2 linked regions of the Homo sapiens genome follow. The main gene of each other region encodes a partner of the protein of the gene in region 2 in a complex. Each region holds a gene or a part of one and is shown on either strand. Other genes may lie near its edges.

Evidence for each region.
Region 1: the proteins of FLT4 (region 2) and VEGFC are in contact, whole or in part, in a crystal structure (PDB 4BSK), measured with the Homo sapiens proteins. Residues at the interface, in NP_891555.2 of Homo sapiens: Gln172, His199, Asp200, Ala201, Leu202, Tyr203; in NP_005420.1 of Homo sapiens: Leu119, Asp123, Trp126, Gln130, Asn167, Arg210.

The regions. Positions count from the first base shown.
Region 1 is NC_000004.12:176,782,908-176,789,932, reverse strand, and holds part of VEGFC (vascular endothelial growth factor C preproprotein), read left to right. Parts: intron 1-7,025. UniProt on the Homo sapiens protein: Growth factor active in angiogenesis, and endothelial cell growth, stimulating their proliferation and migration and also has effects on the permeability of blood vessels.
Region 2 is NC_000005.10:180,646,576-180,654,207, forward strand, and holds the start of FLT4 (vascular endothelial growth factor receptor 3 isoform 1 precursor), read right to left. Parts: upstream 3,026-7,632; 5' UTR 2,971-3,025; coding exon 2,913-2,970; intron 1-2,912. UniProt on the Homo sapiens protein: Tyrosine-protein kinase that acts as a cell-surface receptor for VEGFC and VEGFD, and plays an essential role in adult lymphangiogenesis and in the development of the vascular network and the cardiovascular system during embryonic development.

The sequences.
Region 1 (7,025 bases), on a different chromosome or scaffold from region 2:
ATCCCAATAGATGCAATGTTTTCATAACTTTCACCTAGGAACTTTTTTAATATTTAAAAAATCAAAAATAGCACACAAACTATGAACCAAGGTTAGCCATCCAGCCCTTCAGCCCACCCGTAAAGCCATGCAAAAGATTGTAGGTAAAAATCACAAATAGAATGAAGATCTCCTTATTCCTCGACTTATATTTGCATTTACTGGATTCCTATTTCTAGTTATTTGTGGTTGCATGACTTACTGAAAAGTCTTAAAATGTTTCTCTGAAGGATGTTAACACAAACAAGACAGTGTCAAAAAAGTAAGGCAGGCAAAAGTAAAATTAACTGGACATGATGGGAACAAAAGAGAATAGCAAGTCTGAAGCTGTTCTATTTACAATTTTTCTTATAGTATATGATTATGTTTGTCAACATCTACTCTTATAAGAGATTTCTGACATTCCTCTGAGTGATGCTACTTATATGAGGTTTTAGATATAGAAAGTTCAATTCATCTTTCATTTTGATTTCCACTCCATTATAGTCTTCTGAACTATGAATATCTGATTGATAGCTATTTATTCACAAGACAGTTATCAAAATTGCTTCATAGAAAGCAGTTAATTACTGATCTTAGTGGCATATGTCTAAGACCCGTAGATCTCTAATCCTGTCCTTTTCAGTTGAGTTGAGAAAGACGGAGGGTAGTGGATTTAGATTTCATTTTGGACTTCCAGTTCTGGTTCCGGTTCCTCTTGAGAGGAAGGTCCTGGCCTCCTAGTTATCTCCATGTGTCCAACCCAGAATGCTGTTTCTCAGCTCTTGCTGGGGTTTTCACCAACAGAGGAACTGGCGTGAGACTAATGAAGGTTTCCCGAATCCCTGGGACTGTGCTTGCCTGCTTGCCTTTGGCAGTCCTGGGGTTGTTATTGAGAGTAGGAGTTTATAATCATTATCTGTGATGTTCATAACGTGTGTTAAGCACTTCGCAAAGAGCTTTGCAAGTTAGTTTTGTTTTTCACTACACCTCCATAATATGGACATTATTTTATTTCATTAAGGATGATGAACCCAAGATCTGAATGACTTAACCAGGAAAAAGAATAGATGTTTTTTTCCTTTTTTTCTTTTAAAAAAAGTTTTATGGCATATACCAACAGTCCCCGACTTAGAATGGTTCTATTTAGGACTTTTGGACTTTACAATGGTGCAAAGTCGATAGACATTCAGTAGAAACCATACTTCAAGGTTTGAATTTTGATCTTTTCCTGGGCTAATAATATGCAGTAAAATACTTTCTCTGGATGCTGGACAATGGAAGTGAGCTGTGACCAGTCAGCCATGTGATCGTGAGAGTAAACAACAGGTACTCTACTGTATATTAAATATATTTTCAACTCAGGAGGAATTTGTCAGGATGTAGCCCCATCGTAAATCGAGAAGCATGTATGTTTTAGAGAAATGTGGTAATGGGTTTGGGCCTTTGGGCCTGTGATTCAGACTCCTTTCAGCCCCTCTGCTGGTCTCCTTTGGCACACTATAGCAGCGTGCAGGAAGGCAGAGAAAAGCACTGCGTGTGACTTTGCAGTTAGGGGCACCTTGTTGCATTTATTTAGGTCCTAATTCCCCACAACGGGACAAACGGAAATAAACCCAGACTTTCTTCCAGGCTTTACCACATGGTGTTCGTTTGACTAAAGATAAATTATAAATGACCTAATCCATGGTAATATTATAAGAACGACTGCTTAACTGGAGGCTTAACAAGATTTTCTGACAAACGGTTTTTCAAAGTTGTGCTCAAGTAACTTCAGTGAAAGATTGTGATTTTACCTCTGCCAAATGACCTTTCACAAATAAGTGGATTTGGAAAGAACAAATTTAAGTTGGCAGAAGCGTTATACTTCCTCTGACTTCTGAGCATATATTGTTTCACCTTTCACCAGTTACATTATTCCTTGTAGATGTGCATTTTATAAATACTATATGGGTCTACCTTTTGTTACAAACACATATTTGTATGTACAGATTTGTATAAATTGTGGATTAAGTTATCATTGATTTTTCTCATTAGAAAAAACAGATATAGCAGAGAACTTTAAACAAGGAGAGATGCTGATGAGTTTGAGTTATAGTGTAATTATAAAATTTACTATAAATATTTTAGGTTTGTGTAATTGTTTTTCTGAAACTTACTAGTGTAAATTTTTGGGGTGGCTTCTTTCCTCGGTTGATTAATTTTTTTTTTCAGAGTTTATGTTTAACCATGAGAAAGCAGAGACTGTTTTTATTTAATTTGCTTTATTGGGCATCCATCATGGAATTAATCAAATTGTACATTAAATGCTTTGTCAGTGGATTAGTACTGTTTCCTTATACTGCTCGCGCCCTAGTGGCTTTCAGGTGTTAGGAGTTATCCACGATAGTTTTTTTTCCAATTTTGAAATCCAAAAACTCATTTTCTTTTTCTTTCTTTCCTTTTTTTTTTTTTTTTTGAGACAGGGTCATGCTCTATTGCCCAGGCTGGAGTGCAGTGGCATGATGTTGGCTCACTGCAACCTCTGCCTCGTGGGTTCAAGCGATTCTCGTGCCTCAGCCTCCCAAGTAGCTGGAATTACAGGCATGTGCCACTAGAGCAGGCTAATTTTTGTATTTTTCATAGAGAGAGGGTTTTGTCTTGTAGGCGAAGCTGGTTTCAAACTCCTGACTTCAGGTGATCCACTTGATCTCCTAAAGTGCTGGGATTACAGGCATGAGCCACTGCGCCCGGCCCCAAAAGCTAATTTTCTTAAATTATTTGGTGCTATAATCCTGATCTGAACTGACATAAGGCTATTTATAGTCATTATTATCTAATTTAAATATTTCTAATCTTCACTGGGAAAATAGTAATGTATTTATTTACATGATGCTGCCATCAGTCCTGCTTGTTTTTGGGGTGTGAGTATTAATATGTCTATGCACTTGGTTTCCAGAAAAATTCCAGGTTCAGAGACTCTTGCAGTCTCCAGGCATTTTGGATAAGCAGATGGATTGTAGCCCTGTTCCACAGGCCTTCCTCCATTGCTTTATTGCCTTGGGGCTGCCTGGAAGAGGCAGGGAAAGGTAATCCAGGAATTCAAGAAAGAAGCCATGTGGATGCTCCTAATTCCTTTTTACCCATTAGTACCAGGTTTATTTGCTCTTTAATCTACTTCAACTCATGTTAATCAGTTCTTACTAGTGGCAGCTTCAGTTCTAAGCAGGAAATTACAGTTCAGTGTGTGATGCAAAAAATGTAGAGTGAGTGATCTTGTCTATAACAAGCTTATAATCATTTTGGAGAAAATAAATTTACTCATTAAAAATACTACAAGTGAATTAAACTATAAATCCAGACCATGTAAGTGGTTTTGTAAGAGAGTCTTGTGAGTTACCACCAGTTGTTGGCTAGCCTTCTGGGAGTTGCATGGGCAGGCCTGGGAAAGGTGGAATGATATGAGACCCAATGTTAAAAATGAGTAGATGCTAATTACAGAAATGGGGGAGAGAGGGATGTTTTGAATATTGAAGAATGACAGCAAAGTACAGAGGAAGTAAAGGTCAGGGATATTTGGGGAACTAGAAGCAAACCCTTTGGTGCAAAAGTCAAGAGCTTTAAGGGAAACTGAAGGGAGCATGGTGGGAAGTGTGAAAACCAAAGAGAAAGTCTGAGTTTGAGTTGAAAGCAGCAGGAGCCAATGAAGATTCTTTAGTGGTATGCTGAAAGTGAGGTTTTTAAGGAGCTTAACCTGGCATTGTTGCACAGAAGTGTCTAAGAAAGCTGACCAGAAGCTTCTCAGAAGCTTCTCAGAAGCCATTTTCAACTGCAGGGTTTCTTAAAGTGTCTGGCAGTGACTCTGCCTTTCTCATTACAGTGGCCACCCATATATGGTATTCGAACTCCTCTATATGCTCCTGATTGCTGGCGATGATAGTGGTGATTACTTTTGACTTACTGTAGGCACCCATCATTGTGCTATCTGGATACATTTACAAAAGTATAGAAATAGACATCTCTGCCATTATGGTTTGCATTCCAAACGAAGCAAGCAGTGTAAACAGTGGTCATGCTTAGATACACATACACAGAACCCCCCACACACATATTCATGCATACACCGCTTAATAGTTCTTCAGACTGCCAAGTGTGACTTACGTGTTCTTTCTTGCATGGTTAAGAATTTGTAGACAGTTCATTGAAATAGAATATTTAGACAATCAGAAGTGTACAAGATTAGAATCTCTATATTTGCACACACATTTATTTGTAGGTCAGTGGGCAATTGAAAAAAAAGAGAAGGAGAGAACCCTAAAGTGTCCTGGAAATTCCTGCTTTTTAAAATCTGCTAAAAATGAGACCAGAAAGGTGGGAGTGGGGATGTGAGGAGGTGGGTAAACTACCAAATAAACAATATAAATACTTTGGCTGTTCTTATAAAAGGTTTTTTTAAATATGGTGGAATAATTTACTCAAACTCAAGAGATGCCACCTACTAGAGAAAGGACATACTGAAAGAGGAAATATTCAAATGCACAACTTTGTGTAAAAGGTAATACTTACAAGTTTAAAAGACTCACTTCTAAAGAAGTTTGGCTTCAACCTGTCCTCATTTGGACAGGTGGAAAGATGTATATTTTGGGGTAGACCAGAAAGATGTGGTTTGACTTCTATAGTTGAAAGGTTTCTATTTAGACATTTATTTTGTAATTTAATTTACCTAAAACTTCATCCCTAAATTACCATTTTCTCTTACTTTTATGCAATAGTAAAGTATGCAGTCATAAGTGATAAAGGCTGGGATCAAAGCTAGCTATTTTGCTAACTGCAGAACCTATGCACTCTGTTTACACTGCCTGTGATAGCGCCTGGAAGAACTCACTGCCAATATTTCTGCTTGTTTCAGTCACATAACTGTTGCTTGTGTCAGTGACGTAACTTGTTTAGAGATGCAGTGCAGTGGATAAGAGCACAGGGTATGGACATGCCTTTCTGTATTCATGTCCTGAGGATGCCTCTTAGTACCTGTGTGACCTTGGACAAGTTACTTAGTTTCTCTCTGCTTCTTTGTAGCACAATGAGTAGATGCTAATTTTTAATTTTTAATTTTTTCTTTTTCTTTGTGTCTGTTTTGTGTATTTAGTTACTTTATCTTTTTTTTTTTTTTTTTTTTTTTGAGACAGACTCTGGCTCTGTAGCCCAGGCTGGATGGAATGCAGTGGTGCTATCTCAGCTCACTGCAAGCTCCGCCTCCCAGGTTCACGCCATTCTCCTGCCTCAGCCTCCTGAGTAGCTGGAACTACAGGTGCCCACCACCACACCCAGCTAATTTTTTTTTTATATTTTTTTAGTAGAGACGGGGTTTGACCATGTTAGCCAGAATGGTCTCAATCTCCTGACCTCGTGATCTGCCCGCCTCGGCCTCCCAAAGTGCTGGGATTACAGGTGTGAACCACCACGCCCAGCCTAGTTACTTTATCCTTTTAAAAGTCCTCTTCCAAAATGTAGAATATAATTAATGCCTGCTTAATCAGGTTGTTTTGAGGATAAGAATGTGTATATAGGCCAGGTGTGGTGGCTCACGTCTGTAATCCCAGCACTTTGGGAGTCTGAGTCAGGTAGATCACTTGAACCCAGGAGTTTGAGACCAGCCTGAGCAACATGGGGAAAACCCTATCTCTACAAAAAATAGAAAAATTAACTGGGCATGGTGACACGTGCCTGTATTCACAGCTACTCTGGAGGCTGAGGTGAGAAGATGGCTTGAGCCCAGGAGGCGGAGGTTGCAGTGAGTGAGCTGAGATCACCCCACTGCACTCCAGCCTGGGCAACAGAGTGAGACTCTGTTTCAAAAAAAAAAAAAAAAAAACAGCATGTGCATACATATAAAGCCCTTGGAACCATGATTGGCATATAGTAAGCTTTCTGTAAATTTGTGTTAAATAGATAGTCTTCATGATCAGAAAACAAACAAAGAATATAGCATGTAAGTACTATGTCCTAGACATATGACATAACTGTGATTCTTCAGCACCTTGCAACTAATTTATTAAATTTTTAAAATTATAAATTACTGACAATTTTCCCAATTTCTAAAATATAGCAAGAGGATATAATACTGATGTTTGATTTTGAAACAGGTGAAGGAAATGCAGGGTGTTTAATCATTCAGTGTCTGGAGGCTACATACTGTAGTTCTGCCTATAATATGTTCCCACTTCCCCTGGGTGCCGGGGTTTGTTCCTCTCCTGGAGGGCAGCACAGGTGTCCATAGACCACACCAAACCAAAGAATCTGGGATGATGCTGTCTCCTTATGTGCTTCATTCATACTTAGGTCATTTGGCTGTAAAGGATTTTGGTACACATAAGCTTTTTATAATGCCATATAATTTAATATGAACTCATCTTGAATATATTCAGAGCATATACATTTTCAAGTTTAAATGTTTATTAATGAAACATGCTAATGTTGCTACTTTGATGTGTAAATATCTCATCTATATTATTGCCACAAAAAATAAATATGCATTCTAAATTTACAATGAAATCATCACAGAATACCTAAAATATCAACAATTTCACTGAGGAAAATATAAAGAAAACTTAAGGGGAGAATGCTATATGCCAGAGTTAAACTTGTGTGAATTTGTTTAGGAAAATGTGATTGCACTGTTCCTAAGGGACCCTCTTCCAGAATGGTAACTAGTACAGCGTGTGCTGTCTGAGATGTGCGGACACTGGGACACTGGGATGAATTATGGAGTAGATACTTTCCTTCTCTGAGAGTAAGCTGATTTGCTTGAGTACTCTAGTTTATTCCAAATAGTTGATTTTGTTTGGTGGTTCTCTTTGTCAATTTGCCAGTCAGTGCTGTGACTTGCGTGGTTACCCTGTGCTGAAGACTACAGTGCTGGGGGCATTGGAGGCCCGTGAGCAGACAGGAAAAAGGGAGGAAAAATCAGTGGTGGACACACTTCCCAGCTCTTGAACAGCTGACAGCATATTTTTTTGATTCAGTAACAT
Region 2 (7,632 bases):
TGCAGCTTACAGCCACCAGCTGGGCCTCACCAGGGCCCCTGAACACTTTCATCCCTGGGCAATACACGTCTGATGGCATGTCTGTGTCCCTGCAAGGCACAGGAAACCCCTGTGCGATGGGGCCAGGTCCAAGTCCTCCCTGGGCCACCCCGAACAGGCACTATGCTGGGGTCTTGCATAGAACTGCAGGCTCCTTCCCTGGGTCGGGGTGCCACTGCTGGGGGTTACAGTGAAGAATTCGCCAGACAGACCACACATCACACCTCGTACCCTGTCTGGGCCCAGCCATGTGGGCCCTATGCTCTGGGAGGGCTCAGGACTCCTTCAGCCACACTGGCTCTGTGCCATAGGCCTGGTGGATGAGGGAACAGCACCTGCATTCGAGTCCTCAGAGCCCTGAGCTGGAGCAGAAGGTCCCCAGGCCCAAGTAAAGTGGGCCTGATCCCCACATCCTGCCTGCAGTGACTTGCATCCCTGGGCCACACATCTGTCCACATCTGGGCCTTTGTGACCCAGGTCACAGCAAGGGCAAACGTCCTGAGACCAGGCCACTCCAGATGCCCAGCAGACCCTGCTCCTGCATGTCCCTGAGCTGGTAGCCACAGTGCAGAGGTGCCAATGGCCTCTCTCTAGACTAAGCCCCAAGAGACATCTGTGACCTACCCTCTCCACTGGGGCAAGACTGTGGAACTGCAGCAGGCATCTGGGTCTTGGAGTCCAGCCCAAGCACACACAACCCACACAACCTCGGGGCTTGCCAGCTTGTGCCATGGCTATGCTTGTGCCATGGCTATGCTTGTGCCATGGCTATGCTTGGGGAAACTGAGGTGCAGGGAGGGGAAAGGAGGGGGCCCAGGTCACACAGAAAGGACTTTACGGCAGAGGCAGGACAAGAGTCTGGTTCTATGATCAATAGCACACTTTTAAGGGGTCAGCTTCAGGATGCTCAGGCTTCTGGCCTGCTCCCACCGGACCAGCTGCCCTGACACCCGACTGCAGCTCCCACCGGACCAGCTGCCCTGACACCCGACTGCAGCTGAGGGCTTGTGCTTCCGCCATGGCATCCCCCATCAAGCTGGGGGCTCCCGGGGTCTTCAGCCTAGCAGGGGGTACAGCAAGGTGCAGGGCTCACGGAGGGATGACCTCTGTCTTCATTGCCATCTCCCCACCAGCCAAACCCAGGTCCAGCCCAGGACACCCCTCTCCATGGGGCGCCCAACTAATGCCCTCTCTCCTCTTCATAACTGGGTCACTAAGAGTCACTACTTACTGCAGGGAATAGCTTCCTCACCCTTCACCCCACGTCCCTCTGTGCTCCACCCGGGAGCACCAGGACACTGGCCTCTCCTGGTTCTCCTTATACCTGCAGAATGTTCCCTGGATCCCTGGAAGCCCCCTTGCCCTCTGGGCCCCTCCTCCAGGGTTCCCCTCCCGGGTCTCTCTCTTCCTCTCCAGCTACTCAGCCCAGCTCAGACACTGCGCCCAGGTGCCTGTCCCATGTCTCCTCCAGGATAAGCGTCTCCCATTCTACAGCCCTGCAGTCCAACCAAGGTCTACCAGCCACTCGACAAATACATCCTGAGCACCTGTGGGAGCCTGGTCCTGGGCTGGGTCCAGGAGGGCCAAGGGCAGCGCCCTGATCTGGCCTGCCCGACTCGGAGGCCCAGATAGATGTTCTCCTCCCTCCTCCCCTGGTTGAGCCAGACCTGCCCCCTCTCCTGTCCTCTGCCCTTCAGCCAGTGGACATACAGGTGGTGAGCAAAGGCAGGCTTTGTCAGGCTTACTTTGGGCCTCCTGGGGACCTTGGGGAAGTGACACATGTCCTTGGTCTAAGCTTCTCCATGTGTAAAATGGGTCTGACACTCCCTGTGAGAATTACAAGCATGTAAAGCCAGTATTTAATTCCTATGGCGTGCAGAAATGTTGAGGTCCCCGTCGCTGACTTCAGGGCTTCAGACACTGGAACCCCTGACCCCGCCCTTACACCCTTTGATTTCCAGGGACACCAGCTCCGTGGGGACTCCCAGCTCATCTTCTCAGCTTCCTCCCTGACATCTCCATCCACTCCCTCTGCCGCCCGCTCATCCCCCACAGTCCCTCTTTCCAACCCCTCCGCCTCCGCTTCAGGTCTGCGTCTCTCCCCGCCAGAGCCACATCCCAACACAAACCGAACCCCGCCTCTCCTGTGCAGGGGACCCTCCCGCGGGGGCCTCTGCTCCTCAGCTGGCCTTCGAGGCCCCTGTCCCCTCAAATCCGGGGACCCCTGGCCTTCCGCCCCTTCTGCGGCGCTGACAGCCCGCGATTCGCCTCCTCAAGATTCGTCTCAAGTGCCAGCGTGCACCTGCACCCGTCCGCCTCGGGCGCGCGGTGGTCCCCGGCCCCTGTCCCCGCCGTCGCCGGCCACGGGGAGGGGGAAGCCCGCCTCGAGCGCCCTCTGGGGGACCGACCGCGAGCGGAGGCGCTGGGCGTCGGGAAGTGCGCACCCAAGTCCGGGGCCCGGCCGGGATGGATCTCCGGCGCGCGTGGGTCGGGACGGCGCGGCGCGGGGACCCCGCGGGGAAGCGAGTAAGGGCGCGAAGGATCCGGGCTCAGCGCGCAGCCCGGCAGGGCCCGGCTCCGAGGACGCGGAGCCACCGACGGAGACGCGGATTCAGGGGCCGGGAGAGCTACCCCTGCGCCGAGGCGCGGCCCGGCCGCCCTGGCCCTGACCCGGCTGCGGTCCCCGCCCGCCCCTTCCTCATCCCGAGGTCCCGCGCCCCAAGCGCCGTGCTCCCCTCAGGCGTCCGCGCACCAGGGCCACCGTGTCCCCCGCCCGTACCCGGCGGAGCGGTCTCAGCGCCCGCCCCAGGTGCGCGGTACCCCCTCCCCGGCCAGCCCCACGCTCGGGCGGGTGGCCCGTTCGCCGCGCTCACCGTCCAGGAGTCCCAGGCAGAGCCACAGTCGCAGGCACAGCGCGGCGCCCCGCTGCATCTCCGGCCGCTGCGCGTGGGTCCGACCCGAGCGGCCGCGGCTCGGGGCTGAAAGTGTCCGCGCGGGCGCCGGCTGGCCTGGGGCGGGGCGGGGCGGGGCGGGGGCCGGAGGCGGGCCCGGGATTCAGGCCGCTCCCCGCGCCCCCCTCCCCCCGTCCCTCCCAGCCCGCCGCGGGGCGTCCGGTGCACCCGAGCAGTGCGCGCTCCGCACCACAGGGTCCGGGCCCCCTCCTGGGCGGCTCCGGGCGCGGGGACGCGGGTAACGCAGACGGTCTCGCGATGCGCTCCGGAGGTGATGGAGCCTGGTGGGCAAAGGGGAGCAAAATGCGGCACGCGCTCTTTTCCGTCCTTTCTTTCCATCGGTAAAATCTAGACTAAACAAGAAAGCAATCCTTGTAAAAATAGTATGTTACATCTTTGAAAATAGTGGCACCAGCCGGCGTAACATAGGGAGACCCAGTCTCAAAAATAAACAAGCAAATAAATAAAATAATACGCCGAGCTTGGTTGTGCGCGCCTGTAATCCCAGCTTCTCGGGGGGGCTGAGGCAGGAGAATCGCTTGAACCCGGGAGAAGGAGGTTGCAGTGAGCCGAGATCGCGCCACTGCACTCCAGTCTGGGAGCCAAAAAAAAAAAAAAAAAAGCAAAAACAAAACCCGTTCAGCAGTGTTTACCTGCACAGTGTCGACGGACAGTGTCGACGGAAGCCGCACCCGTGAGCGGGACACCCGGGATGACCGACCCCCTCCCTGCAGGCCTGGCCTCCTAGCTTTAGAACTCCCCCAGATGTTTTGTTCTCAGCTCAATCAGGACCCGCCCCCACCTTTTTAATAAAGCGACACTTTGCTTTTGCTTTCTGACTTGGCAACCCTCTTACAGACTTCCGTTCTCTTTTCAGTTTGTCTCTAGAATTTTCCTGTTTAATAATGAAGCCCATGACCATGACTGTCTCAACCTCCTTCCCTGCTTTTCGTTTCATTCACATTTTCCATCCCCCCACCCCCGCCCCCCAAAGCCCTTTCATCCTCGCCAAAAAGCAAGAGTAGATTTTCAATAACCACTACCAGCTCTCTCCAATCCAGGTAAGAAGTGGCTATATTATTAAGCTGGAATCACAAATCAGTGCGGATAGTGTAGATAATTTAACAAATAAGGTTGGGGAAACTAGGTAACCAAGCGATACATGAAGTTAGGTATTTATCAATCATATATTGATTTTTTTTAGCTTTGAAAGATTATGAGATGTAACACACTTATGGAAAGTACATAATATATCAGCATATTATAAACCTGAATTTTAAAGCAACAAATACCTGTGTTTCCATTCTCCAGGCCAAGGGATGTAGAATGACATCCCCACATCCCCTCACTTCCCATCACAAACCCCTCACCAACCCCAGAAGATGCCCACTACCCTGGCATTATCATTTCCCTGCTTTTGTTTATCATTTTATCATCAAAATATATGTTTTGCTTTTTTTTTCAGAATGTACTTTTTTTTTTTTTTCTCAAAGTCTCTCTTTTGTTGCCCAGGCTGGAGTGCAGTGGGACGATCTCACTGCACTGCAATGCAACCTCTGCCTCCTGGGGTCAAGCAATTCTCCCGCCTCAGCCTCCTGAGTAGCTGTGATTCCAGGCACCCGGCACCATGCCCGGCTAATTTTTGTATTTTTAGTAGAGATGGGGGTTTAACCATGTTGACCAGGCTGGTCTCAAACTCCTGACTTCCTGATCTGCCAACCTCAGCCTCCCAAAGTGCTGGGATTATAGGCATGAGCCACTGTGCCCCGCCCAGAATATACTTGTTTTTTTTTTGTTGTTGTTGTTGTTTTAGACAGGGTCTCACTTTGTCACCCAGGCTGGAGTGCAGTGACATGATATCTGCTCACCGCAGCCTCAGCACCCCCCGGGCTCAAATGATCCTCCCACCTCAGCCTCCCAAGTAGCTGGGACCACAGATGTGCGCCACCACACCCAGTGACTTTTTTGCATAGCTGGGTTTTCGCCACGTTGCCCAAGCTGGTCTTGAACTCCTGGGCTCAAGTGATCCACCTGCCTCAGCCTCCCAGAATGCTGGGATGACAGGGATGAGCCGCCGCATCCAGCCAGAATGTGCTTTTAAAATTTTAAAGTATACTTAGAGGACATAAGTGCAGATTTCTTAATTCATATATTGTGTACAGGTGAAGTCTGGGCTTTTAGTGTACGCGTCACCTGTACAGTGGACACTCTACCCAAAAGGTGATTTTTCAGTCCTTACCTCTTGCCCTCCCTCCCTGCTTTTGGAGTCTCCAGTGTCTATTACTCCTCTCTGTGTGTTTGTGTCCCTACAGTTTAGCTCACATTTTGCTTGTTGTTTTTTTTTTCCACTTTATCTCAGTGCCTTCATACCATTTATATTCTTTTGCTCAACACCATTAGTGAGATTCATCTATATTGCTGTGATGATCTATACTTTGCTCATTTTCGTAACTGCATAGTTTTCCACAGTAGGATACACCACAATTTGTCCATCTACTATTAATGGAAGTTTGAGTGGTTACCAGTTTCCAACTTTTGCCACAACACTCTTGTATGTGTTTCCTGGTGTACACATGCTGTCTTCAACTTTGGTAGCCAGTGCCAAGTATTTTTTCAAGTGATTTGTACCATTTTGCATGATCATGGCAGCGTAAGCAGTTACCGCTGCCGCACACCTTTACCCACAGTATTGTCAGTTTTGGTTTTTAAAATGTGGCCATTCTAGTTGGTTTGCATTGGCATCTCATTGCGGTTTCATTAGCTATTTTTTTTTTTTTTTTTTTTTTTTGAGACAGAGCCTTGCTCTGTTCCCAGGCTGGAGTGCAATGGCGCGATCCTGGCTCGCTGCAACTTCCACCTCCCAGGTTCAAGCAATTCTCCTGCCTCAGCCCCTGGAGAAGCTGGGATTACAGGCATACGCCACCATGCCCAGCTAATTTTTGTATTTTTAGTGGAGACGGGATTTCACCATGTTAGCCATGCTGGCCTCAAACTCCTGACCTCGGGTAATCCACCCGCCTCAGTCACCCGAAGTGCTGGGATTAACGGAGGTGAGCCACCATGCCTGATCTATTAGCTTTTCCTTAATTACCATTGCGGTTGAGCACATTTTTATAATTGGCCATTTAGATTTCAAGTCTTTTGCTCTTTACGACTCCCCATCTGTCTTTTTCTTATTGATTTGTAGTTCTTTATATATTCTGCATATGAGTCTTTTATCAGTTCCTTTATTATTGCTGTATAATGAAGTACTCCAAGATGTTGTGGGGCAAAGCAGCAGCTATTTCGTTTTGCTCATGCTTTTGAGAGTCAGGAATTTGACAAGGGCTTACTTAGCTGGGTTGGATGCCTGGTGGTCGGTGCTGGCTGTTGTCCAGAAGCTCAGCTGGGGCTGCCAACCAGTGCGCCCATTCGGTGTCTTTCCAGCATGACAATCCCACATTAGTTGAAGTTCTTGTGTAGCAGGTGGCTTCCCCAGAGTGACTATCCAAGAGAACTAGGTGGAAACTAGATAGTCTCGAAGAAGTCACAGCCTGCCTAGGGGACATGTTCCCCACAATTATTAGAGAGAGGCAAGGTCACATGCAGAAGAGCATGTGGGATGGCAGACACTGCCAAGGCCATCTGTGGAAAAGGAACTTGGGTACATTGTGCTACACATCTCCTCTCATTCGGGGTCTGAATTTTCACTTCCGTAATGCTCTCTTTTTGGGAGGCAGGATGAAGACAGAAGATTTTCATTTTAACACAGCACGCTTACAAATTGGTTTCCTTATGGCTGGTGTTACTTGTGTTATCTCATTATTTTATTACTATTATTTTTTGTTTGCGATGGAGCCGTGCTCTGTTGCCCAGGCTGGAGTGCAGTGGCAAGATCTCGGTTCACTGCAACCTCCGCCTCCCGGGTTCAAGCGATTCTCCTGCCTCAGCCTCCCGAGTAGCTGGGACTACATGCGTGTGCCACCATGCCTGGCTAAATTTTGTATTTTTAGTAGAGATGGGGTTTCGTCATGTTGGCCAGGCTGGTCATGAACTCTTGACCTCAGGTGATCCGCCCACCTCGGCCTCCCAAAGTGCTGGGATTACAGGCGTGAGCCACTGCGCCCGGCCTTGTGTTCTTTTAAAGAAACCTTTATCTTGATGTCATGAAGATATTTACTATTTTTTATCACTTATAAATTTTAATGTTTTATTTTCTCTTTCATATTTAGACCTGCGGGCCCTGGAATTGCCTTCTCTGTGTAGCGTAAAGTAGGTGCATGTGTCGAGTTTCTGTCTTTCACCCCGTAAAGATATCTTGCTACTGGCCGGGCGCTGTGGCTCACGCCTGTAATCCCAGCACTCTGGGAGGCCGAGGTGGGCAGATCACGAGGTCAGGAGATCGAGACCATCCTAGCGAACATGGTGAAACCCCGTCTCTACCAAAAAATACAAAAAAGTTAGCTAGGTGTGGTGGCGGAGGCCTGTAGTCCCAGCTACTCGGGAGGCTGAGGCAGGAGGATGGCGTGAACCTGGGAGGCGGAGCTTGCAGTGAGCAGAGATTGCACCACTGCACTCCAGCCTGGGTCACGGAGTGAGAGTCCGTCTCAAAAAAAAAAAAAAAAAAGGTATCTTGCTATCTCATGACCATGATGAGAAGGTC